Homo sapiens: one gene and its partners. The protein of the gene in region 1 purifies or fractionates together with the protein of each later gene. This does not show direct contact. Each region holds a gene or a part of one and is shown on either strand. Other genes may lie near its edges. The genes, in order: HABP4, GNL2 and FMR1.

The links.
Region 2: the proteins of HABP4 (region 1) and GNL2 purify together in Homo sapiens (affinity purification with mass spectrometry; 2 studies listed by BioGRID and IntAct, with this or other methods). This does not show direct contact.
Region 3: the proteins of HABP4 (region 1) and FMR1 purify together in Homo sapiens (affinity purification with mass spectrometry; 2 studies listed by BioGRID and IntAct, with this or other methods). This does not show direct contact.

The regions. Positions count from the first base shown.
Region 1 is NC_000009.12:96,445,256-96,454,128, reverse strand, and holds the start of HABP4 (intracellular hyaluronan-binding protein 4), read right to left. Parts: upstream 3,961-8,873; 5' UTR 3,850-3,960; coding exon 3,501-3,849; intron 2,941-3,500; exon of another isoform or gene 2,663-2,940; coding exon of another isoform or gene 2,644-2,662; intron 1-2,643. UniProt on the Homo sapiens protein: Ribosome-binding protein that promotes ribosome hibernation, a process during which ribosomes are stabilized in an inactive state and preserved from proteasomal degradation.
Region 2 is NC_000001.11:37,571,174-37,579,407, forward strand, and holds part of GNL2 (nucleolar GTP-binding protein 2), read right to left. Parts: intron 5,384-8,234; coding exon 5,255-5,383; intron 4,527-5,254; coding exon 4,422-4,526; intron 3,651-4,421; coding exon 3,492-3,650; intron 3,284-3,491; coding exon 3,170-3,283; intron 1-3,169. UniProt on the Homo sapiens protein: GTPase that associates with pre-60S ribosomal subunits in the nucleolus and is required for their nuclear export and maturation.
Region 3 is NC_000023.11:147,928,919-147,937,152, reverse strand, and holds part of FMR1 (fragile X messenger ribonucleoprotein 1), read right to left. Parts: intron 7,206-8,234; coding exon 7,112-7,205; intron 7,026-7,111; coding exon 6,909-7,025; intron 4,729-6,908; coding exon 4,558-4,728; intron 4,469-4,557; coding exon 4,390-4,468; intron 650-4,389; coding exon 540-649; intron 1-539.

The DNA of each region.
Region 1 (8,873 bases):
CATCAAACTTAAAATAGGACATTTACTGTACACCATATTAAAGCCTTTTCCAACAGTATAAAACTGAAAACTGTTAAATACAATTGGCTACTTATTAGAATAATTATCAATATCAAGCAAACATTTCATTTTCCCTCCCAAACCCCCCAAAACAAAGATAATTAGAATAATGATCAGTTTTGGGCAAACATCTCGTTCTCCTTCCCAACTCTCCCAAAACAAAGATAATCAGCATCCAATTTTTTCCCCACAATTTAGTACTAAGAGATCAACACTGCCATGAATTGGGCTTGTTTTTCTGTGCTGGATCAGCAGCTCCAAGTGGAGAATGCAAGCACTGCATTTCACTAACCTCGCCAAGAAAAGGCTGGCACATGCATTCATCATCATCTAAACCAAGCCCAGGTAAAGAAACAGAATACAATAAAATTTACAGTAAGATTTTCCACAAAATAAAATTGACCTTTGTTTCAAAGAACATAATTCTGAAAGGCTAGGAAAAGCAAAACTGAAACGGCCTCTCATGACTTTAAGAATGAACTTATTGAGCAAGGCTCACCCAAGGGTTTATATACATATTGCTAGACAGATAGTCAGACATTAAAAACCTACATTTTTGGCCAGGCATCATGGCTCACGCCTGTAATCCCAGCACTTTGGGAGGCTGAGGCGGGCGGATCACCTGAGGTCAGGAGTTCAAGACCAGCCTGGACAACATGGTGAAACCCCATCTCTATTAAAAATATAAAAAATTAGGCCAGGCACAGTAGCTCACACCTGTAATCCCAGCACTTTGGGAGGCCAAGGCAAGCAGATCATGAGGTCAAGAGATCGAGACCATCCTGGCCAACATGAACATAGTGAACCCATGCCTCTACTAAAAAATATACAAAAATTAGCTGGGCATGGTGGCGCATGCCTGTAGTCCCAGCTACCCAGGAGGCTGAGGCAGGAGAATCGCTTGAACCGGGGAGGCAGAGGTTGCAGTGAGTCAAGATCCCGCCACTGCACTCTGTCTCAAAAAAAAAAAAAAAAAAAAAATTAGCCGGGCATGGTGGCAGATGCCTGTAATGCCAGCTACTAAGGAGGCTGAGGCAGGAGAATCGCTTGAACCCAGGAGGTAGAGGTTGCAGTGAACCGAGATCATGCCACTGCACTCCAGCCTGTCTCAAAAAAAAAGACTCTGTCTCAAAAAAAAAAAAAAAAAAAAAAAAAAACCCTTTTCCATAGGAAAAGCTTGTGACTTCCACATTCTTTCAGGATTAACATTTCTATGATATGTCAAACATGTTTTATTTTTGTCTACACTAAGCATTCACTTACAACATTCTAACTAGATAAAAAATTTTGAATGTTAGAAAAGTACAGTGCTTCTTATCAACTAGGGTTACAAAACCTTGAGAGAATAGCTCCTTGACACCCATTATAGATAAATTTAGTACAGTAACTACATAAATGGAAATTAATGAGCTGTTTGCTCCTGAAATAACACATACTTGAAAAAGAACTTGAATGATAAAATTTCCGTTCTAACTACAAAATCAACTAAATACCTTTAGTTGATTTCAAAAGCCAGATCACTTAGACCTAACAACTGACAGAAAAAAAAAGTTACGAGTGTACTACATGACAACATCAAGTGCAGGAAACAGGTTGCAACCCAGTTTATATCATTTAAGTTTAGAAAGAAAAGAAATAGCTCTGTGCATTTATGTATATAAATGCAAAGTGTTAGTAGGAAAAATAAGAGGATTTTCACTTAACCTCATACATTTTGGAATTGCTTAAAATTCTTAACACAAAAATGCATGACAATTTTAAAAAGGCTAAAAATCAATGTATTAACAGCACTAACTCGTCTCACGTTTTTCTGAAGCACAGAATTTTTTTTTTTTTTTTTTTGTGACGGAGTCTCGCTCTTTCTCCCAGACTGGAGTACAGTGGCTCGATCTCGGCTCACTGCAAGCTCCGCCTCCTGGGTTCACGCCATTCTCCTGCCTCAGCCTCCCGAGTAGCTGGACCTACAGGTGCCCGCCACCACGCCCGACTAATTTTTTGTATTTGTAATAGAGACGGGATTTCACCGTGTTAGCCAGGATGGTCTCGATCTCCTAACCTCGTGATCCGCCCGCCTCGGACTCCCAAACTGCTGGGATTACAGGCGTGAGCCACCACACCCGGCATTTTCATTTGTTAAAAAATAAAGGGTGAAGAAAAGCTTAGCCTTCCTCAATTCCTTTATTATATTGATGTAAATAAGTTTAAGAGAAAAAGATAAAAAACAGGATATAAAATGCACAATGTATCTCCAGTCTCACTGTTTAGATAGGCTCAGAAATTTACTGGCCTACCAAAGTGTCGTGAGATAGTAAATAACATTTTTTTAAAAATCATTTTCAACATCTTTATTGTAGTGACTTGATTCTCAAGTGATGACTCTGGATTTAGCTTTTCACAAATAAAGGTAAACATTACCCAGCTGCACATCAAAGCCCTAATACTTAAACCTGAGACGTTTCCTCAGGGCTGCGATGCACAATTTTTATCAAGCAAGGAACAAACCAATAAAGCCAAGTTGAACACACTGGCAAACGTCGGCAGGAATGGTCAACCTACACATCTTAATCCTAACACTCTGCAAACCTTGGGACCGCTGCCTCATTTCAAGAAAACAGGAAACACAGGTGGAGTGTTGCTGGCTCTGCCACTGACGCAGTTCGGTGAGAGAATGAACTCTGAAGCACCCTCCCCGTCCACAGGCAGCAGGACACCACGCTGCGCACCGGTTTTTCTTGCTAAATAGGGAGTGGGGAACTCCGAATATTCTTGCTGGAAAGGTTAAAAACGCTTTTCTTAAAGCAGCCTTGAGCTATTTATAAGTTGCACATCCCATCAACACCACACGAAGTACTGAAATACGATGCCGGCTGCCTCCTGGAAGCTACCGGACGGAGAAGGGGCGAAGGCGCCAGGCCGGACCGCGCCGGGGACCCCCGCCCGGGCCCCGACGTCACAGGCCGCCCCGCGGTCGCCCAGGCCTCCGGCATCACAGAGGCCCCCAGCCCCGGGACCAGGCGCCCTCCTCCTCCCCACCGCGCTCTCGGGTGGCTCCGACCTCAATCTTGCAGAGGCTGGGCTGGAAGATGAAGGTCCCCGCCAGGTCTGGATGTGGGAGCCCCGGGGTAGCGACCTCAGCCGTTCGCCCCCACACGCCACCCAGACAACCTCCCTCAACTTCGTCCAACTTGCCGTAGAGCCTCAGTGCCAGGGTTCGAGGGCCCTATCCCACCCCAAGCCAGCGTTTCCCCCGGAGCCCCGCACGAGGCTGGCGAGAGCTGGAAGGGGTGTGACCCCTGCCCCTCTCCTCCTACCTTCGGCGGCCACCAGGACCCTCAACTCTCCCTACTGTTCCCGGGCCCCTCCTCCTGAAACCGGCCCCCGGGACCCCAGTCTCACAGCGGGCCGAGCCGTGGTCCGCTAACCCCGCTGTCCCCGCGTACCCGGCGCCTGCAGGCCGCCCCCGGGGCTATCGGGCCGCTGAGCGACGGGCGCCGGGAGGCTCTTGCGCTCCTTCTGCGACTCCCTCCGGCCGCCCGCGCCGGCTCTGTGGCCCGAGGCCCCGGCTGGGCTCCTGCCGCCGCGGGGACCGGCCCCGGCCGCCGCCGCCGCCTCGTCGCGCCTCTTGCGCTGCAGCTGCTGCTGGCGCCGGCGCTCGGCCTCGCGCAGGATGTCGAACGGGTCCGACTCGTCGTCCAGCAGCTGATGGAAGCGGTTGGCCACCACGCAGCCGAAACTCTCCTGCATCGCGGCGCCAGCGGCAGCCACGGGACTCCCCAGAGCGCCCTTCATGCCGCCGCGACCACTGCGGGCCCGGGAGGGCAGCCCACGCGAGCGCGTCTCAGCGAAGCCGGCGGCCAGGACCCATGCCGCCCGCTCCGCCGCCACCGCCCTCCGGGCCCTACCCTGTCCGGCCCCTACCGGCGCCCGCCCCCGCGGCGCCGCCGCCGTCCGCCCCGCTGCGCCAGACAGCCAGTCAGCGCGCGCGGGTGCGCCCCCTTTCCGACACGGCGCGCCTGGAGACCCAATCACCGACCGGCTGCTGTCACGTCACGCGACCTCTGGGCCCCGCCCCGTTCGCTCAGCAGGGAGGGGCGGGGCCCAGGGGCGGAGCTACTGGCTGGTCCAGGCGGCGCCGACGAAGCGGTGGGGTCTCGGCTGTGTGTGCTTTCTCCCGGGACTGCGACCGTATTTGCTATGGGCCACTCTGCTTTGAAGCTTATGTATACATTTAGCCGTGCAACAGCTACATATTGCGCACTTACCGTGTGCCAGGCATTATGTTGTAGGAAATACTAGCTCCGTGTTGTCACAGATCTGAGTCTGTAGATGGAGAAAAAGTGCCCTGAAGGACAGGCGCAGAGCTCTCTACGGGCTGCAGCAAAGGGATCTGACCTAATTGGGAAATGACAGTTAAGCCGAGGGAGAGGGGTGACAAGGGGTTGGAGGAGGAACAGCAAGTGCAGCAGTCTTGAGGTGGGATGTGCACAGCCTATTCAAGCTCAAAGTGGTCTCTATTCTAAGAGCAGTGGGAAGCAAGTTTTGAGCATGAGCAGATTTGGGTTTGAAAAGGCCACCCTACCTGCACTGTGAACTAATAGTTTGGAGGGAAATACAAATGGATGCTGGGAAGCCAAACATGATTGTTGCAAAGCTCCAGGGAAGAGTTGATAGTGACTGGGATTAGGATGGTGGCGGTGGAGGCGAAGAGAGTAGATGGATTCAAAGACTTGGTGATGCGCTAGAGGTGGTGATGAGGGAGAAGAAGATACGGTGACTCTTATTTTCCTGGCTCCAGCATCTGAATGATAGTATTAGTTACCACTGGAAGACACTACTTTAACGGGAATCATTAATTCAGTCTGGGACACGTTGAGGTTTGGATATTTGTTTTCTTTTGAGATATTCAGTTGAGGCCTGGAGCTTAGAGAACGCCGGACTGGACTTCCTCCAGGAAATCTTTGCATAGGCAGCGGTGGAGACACGCTTGGCTGCCTATCCTACAGCCGTTCTTTCCCTCTTACATTTTTCCAGAGCCTGTATTTTGTTCAGGCATCATATTCCCCAGGGGAAGAGGGCCCCTTCCAGCCTCAAACTTGATTAATCATACATTATTCATTGCACCTGATTCCAATTCCTTGCCAGTAATTGGCTTAGGAATAGGCTGTGGGGCAAATCGGGCAGAACAGATCTGAGAAGTATTCTGGGAAAGTTTTTCTTGCACCTAACAAGGGATTGAGAAGGGATCTCCCCCCCTTCTGTTCCCTGGTCTTTGTTCCATGAGAAGACATGATGCCTCGGGTGGCTGTTCCTTAGCGTGGCCATGAGGATGGCAGAGCAGGATAGAGAAAGGCTAGATCCTTGATGAGGTTGAGCTGCCGACTGGACCCACTTGGGAACCTCCCTACTTGAGGCTTATGATGTAAGGTGACAGATGTGATTGCGCTTAGTTGTGTTTGCTTGTTTCATCCGAAAGCATCCAGTTAGAGCATCTTGCCAGGTGCTCTGTGACCAGCTTTTACTTTCCTTAATAGCAAAGGAATTCCTAATCCTAAATGCTGTAAAGTCTGTGTGTTACTCACTTATTGAATTTTGTGTTATTCCCAAGGAGGACAGGGATGATGCCTGTCTTATTCACTGCAGTATGTATTCCCAGTGCTTGGCGTTCTAAGCAGCTATAGAGTAGGTTTTCAGTAAATATTTGTTGAATGATTGAAGAATTTAAGATATTTGGTCATCTCCTTTTGAGTGAGCAAAGATTAATGCCTACGCTTTCTACCCAAAAGAATTAAAAGCAAGTGTTCAAACCAAAACTTGTACATGAGTATTCATAGCAGCACTATTCACAATAGCCAAAAGACAGAAACAAATAATATACATGTCACCCGATGAATGGATAAATAAAATGTGGTACAAAAAATATTATTTGGTCAAAAAGGAAGTATTGATACTTGTTACAACAGGGATGAAACTTGAAAACATTGTGCTAAGTGAAAGACGGACAAAAAGGGCCACACGTTGTATGATTCCATTTATATGAAATGTCCAGAATCTATAGAGACAGAAAGCAGATTGGTGGTCACCAGGTGTGGGGGTTGGGAGTGTTGGAAAGTAACTGCTTAATGGGCATGGGAGTTTCCTGTGGGGTGATGAAATGTTCTGGAACGAGATAGTGGAGATGGTTGCACAAAATTGTAAATTTAGTAAATGTCACTGAGTTGTACACTTTAAAATTGTAAAAATAGTAAATTTTGTGTAAAATTTAGTAAAAATAGTAAATTTTTTGTAAAAATAGTAAATTTATCTTAATGAACCAGAGTAAAAATAGTAAATTTATCTCAATGAACCAGAATCACTACATGCAACAGAGACCACACTTTGAGAAGCACTGCTTCAAGCTAAAGTTATCTTTGGTATCTTTAAACTGCTCATCACCAAACCACAACACCAAGGAATCATGATCATGTGAGAGAAGGGCCTGTCGTCTTCCCACTGGGCATCTGGAGTTAGCCTGCTCCCCTGTTTTCTTCTTATCTTCCTTACAGCATAACCAGCCACTGTAAGTTCTTAAAGCATGCCCTGTGAGCACTGCCGCCTCATTTCCAAGTCACAAATGCCCCAAATGGTTGTAAGAGAACCAACTCTCGTTGCTTCAGGATTCAGAACATCTTTAGAACTGAAATAGAGATGAGTAATCCTTACCTGGTATTAGATGGCCACAAGTTTCTTTTTTTTCTTTTTTTTCTTTGTGTGTGTGTGTGTGTGTGTGTGTGTGTGTGTGTGTGTGTGTGTGTTTGGCAGAGACAGGGTTTCACCACGTTGGTCAGGCTGCTCTCAAACTCAAGTGATCTGTCCACCTCAGCCTCCCAGAGTGCTGGGATTACAGGTGTGAGCCACCGTGCCCGGCCATGGCCATGAGTTTCTTACGGGGCTATTGACTACTGCACAATTTACTGAGAGTAAGGTTAAGCACCCTCATATTTTTTACTGATTGTTTTTTCTTCTAGGAGATTGCATCCTTAAATGCATTCCTAAAATACAACTCTACCACATTAGCATAAGTTATTCACACATTGTGTTTAATGTGGTCAGTTTAATAGACTGATCTTTTTCATAATCTGATATATGAAAACAGCTTTTAGTAATCATAATACCAAACAATAACACACATCTTATAGCATGGAAAAACAAAGCACATCAAAAATGCTGTGAAGTGTGGATGCTGAATAATACTACCAGCCCTTCCATGATTATTATATATATTCCAGTGGTTATTTATTACCACCAATGGAAATGCAGTGAAACTTAACTGTATACAAGATGTAAATTACCTTGAATTACTTAATAGAGGAGTCCCATTAGGAATAATAAAATACACTAACATCTTCCAGATTGACTTGGAATTCACAGAACCATTAATTGAGAGTTTAGACACATGTAGCTTCATTACTTTCAATTACATGCAGGGAGCAACACCTGGGTGAGAGCCAAGGAGGAGAGGCCAGGTCAGGCTGGCGAGGATGTGAGTTCTTGTTAATTACCAAAGCACTGCATTCAATCTGCTCTGTTTTGCCGCTGAATTCCTGCTCTCTCTCTCCTTACCTTTTTCTTGTCCCTAAAGTTAGGATGATTATAACCTGTCTTGCATTCTTCATATAGTTGAATGGAAGACAAGACCAAAGAAGTCAATTGAAAAAGGTAAAAATAAATCTCACTATTTTATAATTGTTTCTACTTGCATAATATATGCAAAAACAAAAGTATTTTTCCTAACTCTAAGAGGATCTGATCTTTTATGCCAGTTGAGTCAATTATGACAGGATCAATGAAGTTACATAATAGTTCCTGGTTTCACTATTCTAAGGGTGATAAGTGAGTTCAAATTCAGTTTCCCACAACAAATGAATAAAGCAAGTAGCAAGTACATAGGCTCAAAGTCAGGAGTTGTAGAACCATAAACCATTAGTTAACAATCAGGATGCACCAGAAGAACTTCTAGCAAGCGGAAATCCATTCATGATGATCAGATACACAATGTTTAAATCATGAAATAATTTCCCCAACCTGCTAATAATATTTGTATTCTTGGTGTCATTGAGGGTCTTTCCAACTTGCCTTCTTATGACAAAAGGTTACTGGATAGCTTAGTGCTTTGTATACTCAAAGCAATTGTGCCAATAGAAATTTTTATTCTCTCCCATTCCTACTATTAAAAGTTTGATCTCTAGTTGTAACTTTAATCAAGGCCAAATAAATAATTGGGGATTTAGAACTTTTTATTTCCTCATTTATTCTAGATCCTTCAAGTTGTGAGCAACAGAAAACCCATCTGGAATAAGTAAAACCAAGGACTTTGTTGGCTCAATAAAAAAAAAAAAAATCTACCAGGAACAGTGATTCGCTCCAGAAATTCCAGACCAGCCTGGAACTCCTGAGCTCAGGCAATTTGCTTGCCTCAGCTTCCCAAAGAGTTGGGATTACAGCCATGATCCACCATGCCTGGCCAACTTGACTTTATTTATTCATTTATTGAGATGGAGTCTCACTCTATTGCCACAGCTGGAGTTCAGTGGCGCAATCTTGGCTCACTTTAACCTCCACCTCCCAGGTTCAAGTGATTCTCCTGCCTCAGCCTCCCCAGTAGCTGGGATTACAGGTGTGCACCACCACATCCAGCTAATTTTTGTATTTTTAGTAGAGACAGGGTTTCACCATGTTGGTCAGGCTGGTCTCGAACTCCTGACCTCAGGTGATCCACCTGCCTCAGCCTCCCAAAGTGCTGAGATTACAGGCGTGAGCCACCATGCCTGGCCGAC
Region 2 (8,234 bases), on another chromosome or scaffold:
AAGAAGTATCTGCCAAGTTCTGGACAGAAATACAATTATAATTAAGCACTAATTAGGGGGCACTTTGGCCCATATCCTTGTTGCTAAAAGTTCCTGAACACTAGGTACTGACCATTTGCATCCCCACTGTCCCTATAGATAGGATTTCTGACATTTGGGTCATAAGACTATGTAAGAATTGATATGCACCCCCATTGTTCCTATAGGCAAGATCTCTGACATTAGAATCATAAGGTTTTTGTTTAAGGATTGCTTAAAATGTCTTTTCAGATCCCTAATTCCAGCAACCAGTTTGAAGATCCCCAGAGAAACGGGATCTGCATGAGAACACAGCTTCTTCATCTCCCTGTCCGTGACTTCACCCTGCACTCTTCACCCAACCAATGACCCTCACTCCAGCCCACTCCAAAACCCTTAAAACCCTAACCCCAAACTCCTCGTGGAAATGATTTCAGGATTCCTCCCATCTCCTCCTTTGGTGACCCTACGGTTAAACTTCTTTCTCTGCTGCAACCTGGTGGTGTCTCAGCATATTGACTTGCTGTGTGCATTGGGCAACAAATCTATTATGGTTACAATAGTTCTTAAGAATTATCTGAACTACTTATCTACACTTACTGACTACATACGGAGGAAGGGCTGAAGACAATGCCAGTGTTTCCACACAGGGTCCCAAGACAGCAGTGATACGGACATCCAGAATGACCCTAGAATCCAGCTGCTAACTCAAAACCTCCAATGGCTTCCCACCATGACACCCTCTCCTGGCCCACGACATTCCAGCCACAGTGACCTCCTTTCAGCATCAGGACACACAGAGCATACTCCTGCCCCAGCTGCTCTGGATGTGCTGTTCCCCTTGCCTGGAACATTCTCCCTAGATACTAGCATGGCTCCTGTCTCATATTAAGGGCTCTGCTGAAGTGCCACTGCCTCAGAGGCCTTCCCCGACCACCCCAAAGTACTCCTCATCTCCCCCAAACCCCTTAGCCTGGTTTAGTTTTCCTCACAGCACGCAAGACTTCCTGACATTATATGTTTATCTGCCTACTGTCTCCCTGTGATATAAATGTCACACTTCCTGGCACAGAGCTCCTAAGACCCTTGGAATTTCCCAAGCGATGGGTATCTTTTTTATTGATTACAAGCCCCTTTCCACCACACCTGAGTTTATGCTAATGTGGTGACTCATGGTAGACCCCTAGATAGCTTCAGGATGGGGGATGCGCTGGTCACCAGAAAGACAAAGCACTTGACCACATGGTTGGTGCTTTCAGCCACTCAGAGGAGAGAAGGGAGACCAGAAATTGAGTCTATCACCAACTGCCACAGATTTCATCAGTCATGTCTATGTAATGAAACCTCCATAAAAACCCCTACATGATGGGGTTTGGAAAGCTCTGGGTTGCTGAACACATCAATGTGTGGAGAGGGCATGGAAGCTCTGTGCCTCTCCCCCATACCTTACCCTGTGCACCTCTTCCACTGGCTGTGACTGAGTTTCATCCTTTATCATAAACCGTTAATTGTAAACACAGCACTTTCCTGGGTTCTGGGAGTCCTTCTGGCAAATTATCAAACCCCAGAACCCCTGAATTTGTAGTTAGCCGGGCGTAAGTGTGGATAGCCTGAAGCTGCCATCTGAAGCAGGGGACCTAGTCCTTAACTTGTGGGGTCTGTGCTAACTCCGGGAGTTAGTGTCACAACTGAATTAAATTGTTGGGACACTCAGCTGGTATCTGAGAACTGCAGAACTGATATGGAAAAAAATTATGTATTTGGTGTCAGAAGAAACCACACACTCCCCTGCTGGAATATATGTGCAGGAGAGCAGCAGCTTGTCAGTTTCTCACCACAGCACCACCAGTACCCAGAAGAGTCTGTGGCCAACAGGAGACACTCAATATGGGATTGCTGGGTGAATGTATCAGTGAATTAATGAATGAAAGATGCAATACACATGAAGAGGGAGAGAAATTTTTGTTTGGTTGTTTGATGGTTTGGGCAGGGAGAAGGGAGAATGTCAATTAACATCAGTTTCAGGCTAACTTTCAAATGCTGCAGAATACATTCAACTGAAAATACCTAGCTGCAACTGCAACTTGGAATGGGGTCAGGTGAGAGGAAACCAGCACTGTATGGACCCAACGACACTAGCAAGCATAGATGCACAATTTGAAGCCACCATTTCAAGAGACTTGGCTGGGTTCTGAAAAAGGTCCTAGAACCAGAAAGGCAAAACGTTAACGTTGAGCCTTGTGGCGGCCCACTGCCAGGGTGAGGGAAATGGGGATAGTAGGAGAGCTTCTGGCCCCAGCCTTCAGTCTTCTTTCTCCGACTATCAGTAGTACCACTCTCCTTTCCCACTGGATCACAGGTTTTTTGAGGGCCAGGGCTGTTTTTCGTTCCTATATTCCCTGTGCCTGGCACATAGTCGATGCTAATAAATGTTTGTTAAACAAATGTTATCTTAGCAATGATTCTGTTTCGTAAGCATAAGAAAAGATACAGGTACCAGAAGATCACTTACATTTAATGAGCCCTCTTTTTCCAAGGCCCTAAAGGCTAGTATCTAAGTTTGGTCTTCTCTCATATGTCTACTTATTAGTCTCCAAATGCACCCCCTAGCAAGGCCATGGCACTGGCACTCTAGAATGAGAGAGGGTGGAGTGATCGCCATGGGCCAGCAGTGGCTCCCAACAGTGCTTCACCCTCAAAAAAATTTTTTTTTATTTTTTTGAGATGGAGTCTCCCTCTATTGCCCAGGCTAGAGTGCAGTGGCACGATCTCGGCTCACTGCAACTTGTCTCCTGGGTTCAAGCAATTCTCTTGCCTCAGCCTCCCGAGTAGCTGGGACTACAGGAGCGTGCCATCATGCTAGGTTAATTTTTGTATTTTTAGTAGAGACAGGGTTTCACCATATTGGTCAGGCTGGTCTTGAACTCCTGACCTTGTGATCCACCTACCTCGGCCTCCCAAAGTGCTGGGATTACAGGCGTGAGCCACCCATGCCCGGCCCCAAAAATATTTTTATATATTTAAAAAAATAATAAAATGAGAGACACCGCAGCTGAATGAATACACGCTCTATGAAGAGAGACAATCACAAGCTACACCAAATCTAGGTCAGGACCCATGCTCCCCAGAGGTGGGCCCACCCTGCTCTTACCTGGGGGGCCACAAGTGGCTCTGCATTGGGTGGCTTGACAAAGAAAGGAATCCGGCCCCTCTGCCAGTCATTGAGGACCATCTTACCCACAGTCTGCAAGTCGGGCTCTCCACCCTGAAAGGTCACAAAGAGATTCCCAATTAAATTCAAAGGACCAAAACCACCTACCACTTTGGGGGTATTTCAGTTGTCCCAGGGGTTCATCATCACTTAAGTGACAAGTTTCACACTGCTCATACATGCATACCAAAAAAAGGCCCATATCATATACATACATGCTTGTGACAAGTATCAGTCTAAATTCTCACAAACGCCGGGTCACCTTTAGTAACTTCCCAGTCCGGAAAGCGAGCTTCTCAAGAAAGTCCTCAGCATTCTCCCAAGAATCAATCTTGTATGTTTTGCTGATATATTCTGGCTTTGCTCGTTCAAGTACAGCACCAATGTGGTCTTCAGGACTCTTAATTTTTTCTACTTGAACCTAAATGTTAATAGGAAATCTCTCACTTACAAACTTTGTTGTGGAAGCAGTGAAGTTCCCAGTGTCCTTTGCAGCACTATTTGAAAATAGACTTCAACATCACAAAGCTCGTGGAGATTGGCAGGAGCCTGTCTCTGACGGGGCTAGACATGGTCAGCTGCAAGGAGCACTGCTGAAAGCTGACCATAGCCACGGAGCCCAGAACTCAGCTTTAATCCCCACTCACCACAAACTAACTGTGTGGCTGCCACAGTTTAAACTTGGAATGCTTCATGTTACTCACTTGCAGAAATGGTTAAAAGCCTGCCCATCCCAGGACACAAAAATAATGGAATAGTTTAAGAAAGGAGAGGAGGAATGTGTACAGGATGTATAGCCAGAAGCATGGTCAAGGTTAAGTGGAACCATTTACAGTTTTTCAGTCGTATTCAGAAACAAGTGAGGAAATGACTGGGTTCCAAAATGACTCAACCCATAAACCCACGAAGACGAATTATCGCTAAGCATAAACAGGCCCTGCTTCCCTTTGGATCCTGTGTGTAAACTACAAACTCTTTTGTGGGATGATATTGACCAGATATGCCCATGGTTCCACTAATTCCTCAAACAGCTTATGCTGAGAGGCTGCTGTTCAGCATCATGTTCCTAAAGTTTGGTCAGACAGGCTGACCCCAAACTGCCTTCTTAATAAGTAAAAAGGAAAGGTATCCAGGGTTCCCTATAGAACACTCCCCCGCAAACACAAACAGCCTATCAGGGCCAAATACTCACAACTCCTTTTAGCACAATGTCTGTCTCGGAGTCCTCAGAGGGGTAAACCACACCTGGACAGTCAATCAGGAATATCCGACGCATCAAAGTAATATACTGCCAGACCTGAAGTCAGAAAAAAGTCAGAGATGTCCTGTATCAAACACTAAGAGTCTAATTTCACAAACCCCTGATGCTCATGTATGAAGCTGGAAAGGAGGAAGGGGTGAGTCAAAGAAAAGCAACGCGCTAAGTAATTAAGCTACTAACTCTCTCATCTGTGCCGTGCACAAGATACTTCCACTAAGTGTAAACTATAGTTTCCATCAGCTAAGAGTCTAAAAACAACACAGAGACAGGATTTCCATCTCGTATTGTGCAATTATACCCGGTGAACCTTTCCTGAGTTTTAGAAGTACTCTTGAGAGCTTAGTACTGCTTGACCTCATTGCCTTTAAGCAAAACCATGCTGTTCCCCACTATGTGTTCTAGGATATGACCCCCAACTTTCAGAACCTACCTTAAGTTTGAGGCTTCTTAACCCAGGCATCAAATATTCTTGGGTTAGTTTTGTTTATCAAAATAAAAGGCTGGAGTGATAATTTAAAACAGATCTAAATATGAATCACATTAACTAACACAGGCCAAAGCCACACGGGGGCATATAAAATACTCTCAGTCTTATCAAAGTGGGCAGAAACAACTCTGATACGTTCCAAACTATTATATGGTGAGCTAAACTCCTAGTGGTGGTCTGCATTCAAGAGAAGCAGAGAGAAATCAACAAGTCCTAAACAATCACTCTCTATGAAAAGAAAATATGCAAAAGTAAGGTCACCCTGCGCCCAACGTACCTTTGTTTCACCTGCAATGGGAGCCACGTTGCAAACTTTCTTAGAACGCAATGTATTTATCACAGAGCTCTTGCCAACATTTGGATAGCCAATGAACCCAACACTGATCTGTTTCTTGTCAGTGTGCAACTGTTCAAAGAGAGAATACACAGCACATACATGCAGTCATATATATCCCTTTGGACAAGTAGGTTGTATTACTTTGTTAATATCAAGAATACAGTGCAAAACTGTTGATACAACTTGATCTGAAGCCTAGATACACACCACCTACATAATCTGAGTAAGCTGGATACATATGCTTATTAATAAATCAGAGGTGAGTCATTTCCTCAGTCATGCAAGTGAAATTATCCTTGTATGTGTTAAGGTTAAAAGTATGTAGGTCAAGAAATAAAAGAAGGCTCGGCACAGTGGCTCACGCCTGTAATCCCAGCACTTTGGGAGGCCAAGGAGAGCGGATCACCTGAGGTCAGGGGTTCGAGACCAGCCTGGCCAACATGATGAAACCCTGTCTCTACTAAAAATACAAAAATTAGCCAGGCATGGTGGCGCAAGCCTGTAATCCCAGCTACTTGGGAGGCTGAGGCAGGAGAATCGCTTGAACCTGGGAGGCCGAAGTTGCAGGGAACCAAGATCATGCACTGCACTATAGCCTGGGTGACAGAGACTCCAGTCTCAAAAAAAAAAAAAAGAAACAAAAGAAGAAAAACAGCTTGTTAGTCACTGATTTAGAACAATGCCATCTATTGATAAAACATCTTCGGGAAAAAGAATATGAACAGGTTCATCAACTGGACAATCCCACAACTCACCCCCCCTTTTCTTTGCATAATACATCTGCATTTCCACTGCCAAAAATAAATAACAAAAGAAAAAAAGCAACCTTGAAAGTTACGACTACAGGGTGAAAGTCTCAAAAAGGCAGAGCTTGCTATCAAGAAGAGGGCCTACAAACGAATGGAGGCTTCCGATTAAAGATGGTGGACTGAACATACATGCTAACCCCGTTCCCTCACCAACTCCACTAGAATGACAGCAGTGGACATTAACACTTTTAAACCAATAGAACCAAACATACTGAACCAGAGAATGAGATGGAGATGAGACAACAAAAACTAAAGTGATGTTAAACAAAATACTAGATGCTTAAAAGTAGTATCAAACTTGGCCCATTACAAAATATAAAAGCTAAGTGGTTGTAAAGATAGAAAAACTAAAGATCCAGCAATAATAATGACAATGAATCACAGAGATTCATTGGGAATCACTGGGAATTGGTGGTAGATCCCTCTTAAGATAGGGCTGAAAACAAGGACCAGCAGATAGTCTGCCAAAGCAGCCACACTTCTCCATCCCCTCCCTCATTCAGGGTGGGCACACAACTTCTCTACTCTCAAAGAAATCCAGGGCCTATGAAAGTGGCTTTTGGATTTTTTGAAATGTCACATGTTTGAAAGTATCTGTAATCTTCAGACTTGAAAGGGATCCTGGATTTAGAGATAATAACAGTATTCCCAGAATGATTAATTGAAAATCTAAGTATTCAATAGTGAGATGCCCAGTCTACTATTCCCACTGAGTTCCCAGAACTCTAGCAGCCAGGATTCTATACCCCTAGAGCTAGAGATTGAAAGATTCTCTTCTGGGGAAACTCACAAGCCCAAGAAAAAAGACCTACAGACACTGGTATCTACAGGATGTCCTCCCAACAAAAAATTTGGGTCCCAGTCAGGCACAGTGGCTCATGCCTGTAATCCCAGAACTCTGGGAGGCTGAGGTGGGCAGATCACTTGAGGTCAGGAGTTTGAGACCAGCTTGGCCAACATGGTGAAACCCCAACTCTACTCAAAATACAAAAATTAACCAGGTCTGGTGGTGCTTGCCTGTACTCCCAGCTACTTGGGAGGCTGAAGCAGGAGAATTGCTTGAACCCAGGAGGCGGAGATTGCAGTGAGCCTAAATCAGGCCACTCCACTCCAACCTGGGCAATAGAGCAAGACTCTGTCTCAAAAAAAAAAAAAAAATTAAATTAAATTAGAGTCCCTATTTAATCACCTTACAATGAAGTCTATCAGTCAACAAGGCCACTCCATGGAGAAAAAAAAGAACCTATCAGCTTTTTAATGCCTTACTCTTTTTTTTTTTGAAACAGGGTCTTCCCTTGTCAACCAGGCTGAAGTACAGCGACACAATCACAGCTCTCTGCGGCCTCTGTCTCCTGGGCTCAAGCAATCCTCCTGCCTCAGCCTCCTGGGTAGCTGGAACCATAAGTGTGCACCACTATGCCTTGCTAATTTTTTTCTATCTTTTGTAGAGATGGAGTTTTGCCATATTGCCCAGGCTCGTCTAGAACTCCTGAGCTCAAGCGATCTGCCTGCCTCATCCTCCCAAAGTGGTGGGATTATAGGCATGAGCCACTCTACCTGGCCTAATGCCTTACTCTTAAATATAAATAGAGAACCAAGAATAAACATTTAAGTTGACTCTACTTGCGGGTCGAGGCTGCAGTGAGCCATGATCGCACCACTGCACTTCAGCCTGGGTTAAGACAGAACAAGACCCTGTCTCAAAAAAATTTTTAAAGTAAAAGAAAAAATTTTTAAGCGTGACTGTAGCAGAAAACACAAAAAAACCCACAAAAATTTGGAGGTAACAGAATCAATGCAGACAGGAAAATTTCAAAACGTCATTAATGATACTGTGACTGTGAAATAAGATGTAAAAGGAGGCAGAGCAAATCAGAATTCAACAAGAGCTCTCAGAAATTAAAAATTAAAAGCAATTGGCAAAATAAATTTTGTGACTGGGCAGCTGGATGATCAAAACAAGGAAAGTGGCCGGGAGCAGTGGCTCACGTCTGTAATCCCAGCACTCTGGGAGGCCGAGGGGGGCGGATCACCTGAGGTCGGAAGTTTGAGACCAGCCTGACCAACACGGAGAAGCCCCGTCTCTACTAAAGATACAAAATTAGCCAAGT
Region 3 (8,234 bases), on another chromosome or scaffold:
CTACAAAAAGCATATATTTATGAAGATAAAAGGGTTACAGAATTTAAAGGTAAGGAGGATGGGGAAGAGATATTAAGCACAGAAATAAATTTAAAGCACACAGAATAAACACACATACTACACAATCCCCACACTAAAAAAGTGAAAAGATGAAAGCCAGAAAACCTGTGTTCCAATTTTGCTTTTGTCAGCAACATTAACATTTACAAAGTGCTTTACGAAGCATTTACATATATATTATTTTATTAAATTGCCATTAACACTCGACCCAGTGATGTATGTCTCATATTTAAAAATTTATAACTACCCATTTTAAAGATCAGGAAAAAAGAATTCAATAAAGTGACTAATCCAAACTCACTGCATTAGAGGACAGAGAAGGGCCATTATCTACAATTATAACATTAATTACAGCAGGCATGCTTGATAATCAGAATATTTGCATTCACTTTATGCACATATTAGAGGTCCTCAACATATCACATAAAAAACTTTTACTTTTATTATATGTGCCACAAAATATTCGCACTGTAACATACCTCTTCTTGTGGAACATTTTTCTCATTTTCAGCCTCAATCCTCACCCTCACAACTCCTGACTTGTCCACAATCTCCTGAATCAGCTTTCCATTTTTTCCTATTACTTTGCCTAAGAAATAAATAAATCAAGTTTGGTTTTAAAAACACATACCTCAAAGCAGTAAGCACAGCCCTACTGTAAACTATTACATTCATATAGATAGATATTTTTATGTGTATGTGTATGTATTGAATTGTAAGATTTCAAAACCAAAGTAGAGACTCTTTTCAACAAGATGGTTAATCTGGTTTTCTGTTTAATTAGGACATCATTGTTTAAACTCCTTTGGTCAGGTACCAGAGTTGATTAATACTTGCAAACTGATAGGGTAATTTTGGATTTTTAAGGCAGTTCAAAGATAACCTCTTATTTTTGCACAAAAGGGTACGCTTTAAACTTGCTGGTACTGTGGTATGTATCATTCTTTCTGCAAAGTTCTATAAGAATTAAGAAAAAAGTAGAGAGAATGGGAAATATATTCACTTATTCAACACTTTCAATTCTTGTCTGTACCTGATTTAAATCTGCTTCTTTGTCCATGGTAAATATTTTCAGAATTCTGTATGGAAGGCACATTTATAAAAGATAATCTAAGTCTGAAAGTGGCTTAAGCAGCTATACATACATCCAAAAGGAATACAAATTCTTCAAGGTCAATGTGTTAACAGAGTATCACTCCTGTGCATTACTTACAAACTTTAGCAATGTATTAAAAAGTGAAGGGATTAGTCACAGAGTAAAAGATTAAGAAAACCCACTTTAAGATAACTCAAAACCACAATGAAAAAGCTTTAAACCAATTTAAGTATTTTTCAGTAACATCTATTAAAACTTGGGATTTCAAGTACCAGTAAAAAATAGGTACTTGATCATTTCCTTATTTATTTTACAATCATATACATTACTGGAAAATGACTGCTTTCATTTGCATCATGACACGAGTGGTAAAGCAAGACATTACAAACTTAAGAATTACTAATTCTGGAAATGTACATGTGAACTACATCTGATTCTGAGGGCTCACCCAAGGTACCTAAGTACCCTTACATTGGCCACATCCACCATGTGCTTGCCCTCACCATCTCATCTTCCATTTTTTCCTTTTCGCCTTTAAAGGCAAAGCTCAAGGCAAAGTTGGGGGAAAAGATGGAAGCAAAAATTTGCTTTGAGCCAATGCTAGATAAGAACTCAGTGAAAAGCCTTCTCACAAAAAATTCTTGTGGCTCTTGTAATCAGAGCATAGCTTTGACATTCTTGCTGTGTGTGGCTGCCTCATTCACCCCTAGAAACTCTTTGACTGGTCATAGAACAGATCTGACACCATTAAATCAGGATTCTTGGTCTAGGTCCTTCTGTCAATTATTTCTGTTCTTCTATAACGAAAAGGGGAAAGGTGAGGTGAGAGAAGCTACTTGGAGTCTTCACACAGTTTGATTTTAAACTGCAACACTTACATTTTCATGAATTAATGTTGACTTTAATAAAGATCTAAGTGAGTTAACAAAATGAAAAATGAGATTTGGGGATGTTTTTATTAAGATAATATCTTAATTATCCTAAGTACTGTGTGTTAACTATAGCTGACTGAATAGTCATACCAATTCATTCTTAGTGAGTGAAGAATCCAATTTTAATGAAAAGATAAATTAGTGCACATACCAAAGAGAGTTTGTGAAAAATAGAGATCACAAATAACGTTGGTTGACTCAAACAAAACACATGCAAAACTGATTATGACACCTCTCTAAAGATCTGCCTTGCAGAATCTTACACAAAAATGCTTTCTGAAAAGTTCCAACGTTCCCAGTGTTGCAGTGGACCATCTCTAAAACAGAATTATCTCATTTTACTAACTAGAAACAACAAAACAAAAACAAGGCTGATTTACTTTTAGCAGTCTTTCTGGTTATTTCTGAGATCCTCTTCTTTCCAGGTAACCACAGGTAGAATCTACTTTTAATATTTAATAGCAAATAATCCAATTCTACATTACACTTATTTCCAAATCCCAAAGAGCAATTTACTGTGATTCTGTTCTACTGAAATGGAGTTGTTTTGAATAAGGTGAAGAACAGAGTCCCCTACTGTGTCCAGAATTGTCCCCTACTATATCTTCCAATTTAATTATCACATCAACTCTATGAGGTGGATCCTATTATCACATTTGATAGGTAAGAAAAATAATTCTCAGGGGGGCTAAGACAGTGACCCACGCTCACATTGCCACCAAAGAATAAAGTAGGACTGAAATCCAGATCCAACTCCAATGCCCAAGCACTTTCCCCACTACCATCATGCCATCTTCAAAACCAACTTTAATGAATCTGACACATAATTCTCTACTCATTTGCTATTAAAAAAAAAAAACAAAACAACTACCAGCTCTTTTTCCATAAGAATTCCTAAATTTACAATAACCTTTCTAACTACAAAAGGTATGCAATTGCTTGACAAGCTGTAAAGAAGAAAATAAATATTATTCATCACCCAACTGTCTTGAGATTAGCACTTTATCTTGCGCTATGCATACATTCTGTACACATACAATTGGTATGCAAGTTACCTTAGTAACATTACAAACACATTTCTCCAGTTGTCTGTAGTACACAGTTGAGCTAACACTTCTGCATTATTTTCCTACTATTTGCACTTTATCTTCAAGCTAATTTTCTTTGGGAGATACATTTATCATTTCTAGTGTTTGTTAATGACAAGGAAGATGTTTATGAGTCTATGCTGACAAAAAAGCAGGCTAAATTAGCATTGAAACTACGTAAACAGAATGTATGAGAAGTCCTTGCTTTCTTCTTTAAAGTTTCCAAAGAACATGTATTACTTTATATAAAATGGCCATGATCTCAAGTTTAAAAGATAAAAAACATATAGGCAGTATGTCCCAATTTTATTTACAAATTAAAAACATATGTAGCTTTCTTGATAAAACTGCACCTGGTTTTGATATGTTCTACTAAAGATATCTGCAGCATTTAGGAGTATTGGTGAAGAGCTCCTAAATATTTGCTGATACTCACGATGGTGATGGTGATAAAACACTACTCAAGTCAAAATGAAGAATTACTATTGACTTTGCAGAAAGTCCCAGAGACATCTGAAGTTTCTTCTAGCTTTGGAACTTTTTAGATTTAAGTAACCTATGTTCAGATCTTCAACCCTGAGATAATTAAAATGAATGCTATCATTTTATAGTCCCATAAGAAAGATCAAATACAAATCTATTTCAAATCATAAAGTCCCCAAATATCATTCATTTTGAAAAATTATTTAATTTTAAGATATAAAAGGTATACAGTCAGGAGGGCTGGGCAAGATTTATCCTTTCAGGTATTAGTAGGTTTGAACTAGAAAAGCAATCTCTTTTGAATACCTTCTGAAAATGTAACCTTTGAGCATCATACTTAACAAATATTTTTTTGTATGCTGTAAGAACAGATCGATTGAACAATGAGAACACATGGACACAGGAAGGGGAACATCACACTCTGGGGACTGTTGTGGGGTGGGGGGAGGGGGGAGGGATAGCGTTGGGAGATATACCTAATGCTAGATGACAAGTTAGTGGGTGCAGCGCACCAGCATGTCACGTGTATACATATGTAACTAACCTGCACATTGTGCACATGTACCCTAAAACTTAAATAATAAAAAAAAAGAACAGATCATATTTCAAAGACTATGTTTCAATTAAATGATACCCTCCAGTAAGAAAAAATGGAATTCTATCACTATAAATAAACTGTTTACCTAAACTTAGTTGTTGTACTATATGTCAACAGATACTTCTGACTTACCTACTAAGTTCCTTGGAACTTGTATTACATCTTCAGCAAATTCGAGAAAGCTTCTAGCTTTTTTCACTGCATCCTGATCCTAATAAAAGGGGAAACATTTTAAGACAAAAGATTAGCCAGCTGAAATACTTGTTTGGGGAAAAAAAAACTATGCAGTAAAATATTTACCTCTCCATAAATATGAAATGTGCAGGTATCTTCATCTAGATCAATAGCAGTGACCCCAGGTACTTTTCTAGCTTGCTGAATATTAGCACCATGAGTACCAATAGCTAGACCCATCAGATCTTCTCTTACGATAAACTGTTCATGAAATCTCGAGGCAAGCTGCCTTGAACTCTGAAGAGAAATGGACGTCTGATGAATACACTTTATCAACTATTACGACAACTGTATTTAGGCCAGCCATGTAAATTATCTTGACCCTGTATATGAGGGGTCCATAAATTATTAATAGTTTTAGGTTAAAACTAACAGGTTTTAGAAAATACCTCTCACAGCCTAAGTACTTTTTAGGTTACTAAAGGTCTATGACATTTTATATGTTTTTGTTAATAGGAAAGAACTTGTTGACATTTTCCAAGGTAACTGCTGAAAACTTATCACAAGGCTGCCTTAGTTAACCAATGACATCAGCAATATAATAACTAAGAAGCAGGTCAAATGTTCCCCAGTAAAAACCAGCTCACTCGGTCTGACAAACTCAATGTTACTTATTTAGGTAAAAAAATGTTTAAATATCATCTTTATAGAAAATTTTATTCGCTTCATTTTTATTAAAAGGTATCAGTATATATTTTCTGGAAACAGTGCCATTTTTTATAACATCATTAGGTACTGTGGTCTAAACATTCCTCTGTTGAAATGACATTAAAATGACACCTCCCTCAAAACCTAAGGAATCAAAAATTGTTGGTACAGTAGTTAAACTGAATAATCAAAAAATGTCAAAAATTAAAAACTTAGTAAGCATCTGAAAGCTAACATGAGACCAGAGTCCGTAAGACCTTGTGATCTGGATCCACAATTATGATGAGCACTTGTAAATATCCAGTGATGACGAAACTAAGTTACACTGACATCCCAAACTTGTGGATAACCACTGTCTTTAAATACCATTATCAAAATTTAGTGTTCAGTTCTAGCATGCCATTAATGAAAACCAAACGTATTAGTGGCTCATGTTGAAAAATGGGAATTTCTTATAGGAACATGTAAATCTCTTTAATATTAGTAGTGAAGAAAGATAGGCATGCATACTAGTTTCTCATTGTTCAACAGACCTGATAATTTGAATGAATGAATACAACTAGCATAAATAATTTAAAAGTGCAATACCCATTTTTTTTAGACTAGAGTAATAAAATCTATAAAATAATTCTAGGACTTTTCAAGAAGTCATGTTTTTTGAGTCCTGGTTCATTAATCTGGTTCGTTCTTTTTCATTGATAATTCACTGATAAATGGTTAGCCAAAAGTATGATAGATCATTTAAGAATAATTCGATGTTTAAGAGGCATATGAGTATATTTTCATAATACTCACAATCAAAGTAAGGAGGCAGCTCTGGGCTAAAAGTTATGAGAGAATCACTGAAGGAACCACAAAATCATGAACACAGGGACATCAAGAAAGAATGAGAGCAAAGACCAATTAAACAGACCTCCATGGCCTTAAGAAAAAACAAAGTGGCAAAAGGAGATTAAACTTTTCCCCTTCTGCTAAGAGTTCAGCATCATACATCAAGTTGACAGGTGGCAAATTTCACAGGGTTTTTATAAGAACACAGTCTTGACTACCTTTTCTCCTAAAATGCAGTTTGGAACTCCTTTTTTTCTTTACTATTTCAAATGTGTGGTGTTTTCCTTCTAATGAATAATGATGACGAACTCTGGAATTTGACAGGAATATAGTAGAGCTGGCACATTCATCTAAGATCCACTTAGTTTCTATAGTAATGGATGGACGTACTTGATAGTTATCAATGAAAACAAATATATGGTGATGAAAATTATTGGAGGATTAATAAAAGTAGATAAAATGCACCTTAAGAGACAAAATAGTAAGTTAGGGAAATAGCCTCTGGCGGGAATCTGAAGACAGGAGTTTTAAAGAATGACAACCAATTAGAATGAAGAAGTTCTATACCCTTTTAAACAAAGATAAACATACATAATGAGAGGAATATGATTAGATATTTAAATATTCTCTAGTATTTTTAATGACAACATGTTATATGGAAGAAGCATTGCCGCATTTTATTAGCAACTTTGATAAACTTCTAGTAAAAGTGAAAGTACCAGAAGTCCCTTAATATACATAAGCTGCTGTTTAATTTTGAAACCTCAGGCATGGAAACTTTAGTATGATTATGCTTTGTACAATTTTCCAACTATAGAACCTAAGGAATTGTTAAGAAGCAGTAAATAAATGACAAGCTCCCCATATTCAAGTTGTGGAATGATACAGTTAATCGTTCCTAGGTACCCTTACAAGCAGTGCTAGGGAAAGTGACATACCTCCAGCTGCTTACTAGCTTCTTCATTTCTCATTATCAGAGACAACTTAGTGCGCAGACTCCGAAAGTGCATGTCAATCAGCATATGTGCTCGCTTTGAGGTGACTTCATTGATGGACTAAATGATTTAAATTAACAACATTATTATCAAGGCAATTGCCCCAGATGAATTAAACTAAAAATAAACAACTCAAAAATGCTCACCAAAATGACAAGCTGATAATTTTCTGGATCATAAGTTACAGAAAAGGCACCAACTGCCTTTTTAAAATCCTTATGTGCCGCCTCTTTGGCACACCTAGAAATTTAAAAAAAAAAATTAAGATGAATAATTACCAACTACTGACATAAATAAATGCAGGCAGATTTACACATACAAGAATCATGGATTCATATTAAATTTGATTTATGCAAAATATGCTATATCCATTTAGAAGCTTAGCTCCTTTTCTGTACATTTCTGAAATACAGCTTAGATTACCAAAAGAGACATATTCAGGGGAACCACTCTACACTACAGGTTTCCTGATTTCAGTTACATACAAGTCAGTAGTTTTCTTAAGTCAACTATTGAAAACTTTTGGAGATAGCTACCTACAGGGTATCTGATTTCTTTCTTCTTCTCTTGTTGCAGGCCTTTTTTTTTCCTTTTTTTTTAATTTTTAGTTTTGTGGGTACATAGTAGGTATATATATTTATGGGGCATATGAGATGTTTTGATACAGGCATGCAATATGAAATAAGCACATCACGGAGAATGGGGTAAGAAACTGCTAAACGATTTGAGGGAGAGAAGGAAACGTACATGAACCAGAAGGCACAAAAATTTACACACATACACAATCTCTAGAAAAGGGAGGATTTCTATGTATTCTGAACTGCAATTTAATGTTCAACAACATGTCCAAATCAAACGTACTGTATTCACTTAATAAAATCTGTAAAAAATAAAAATGCGTCTCTTCTATAGTCTTTAAGCATTATTCCAGATCAAGGATTGTAAGATGAGATGACTTTTTAAAGCTTCTTTGGCTCTACTTATTACACATTTATCTGAAAACATTTTAGGTAAAAGAGAAAAAAACGGAGAAATCGTTTATAGTTTGTGACTTATGACAGAATTATCACATTTGTTTGATCAGTTTTTAAATCTTAGAATGAACAAAGTTAGTTTAGAAAACAAATGTACATTATGTACATCAGACACGTGTATAGCCAAGTAAGTTTAAACAAGCGCAAGGCTGCCTTGATTCTATAAGTAGGAAAAGTTAAATAAGTTTTTTCTCCATTGCTCTTGCAAACCAAACCATTTTTGCCAAAGTCCACC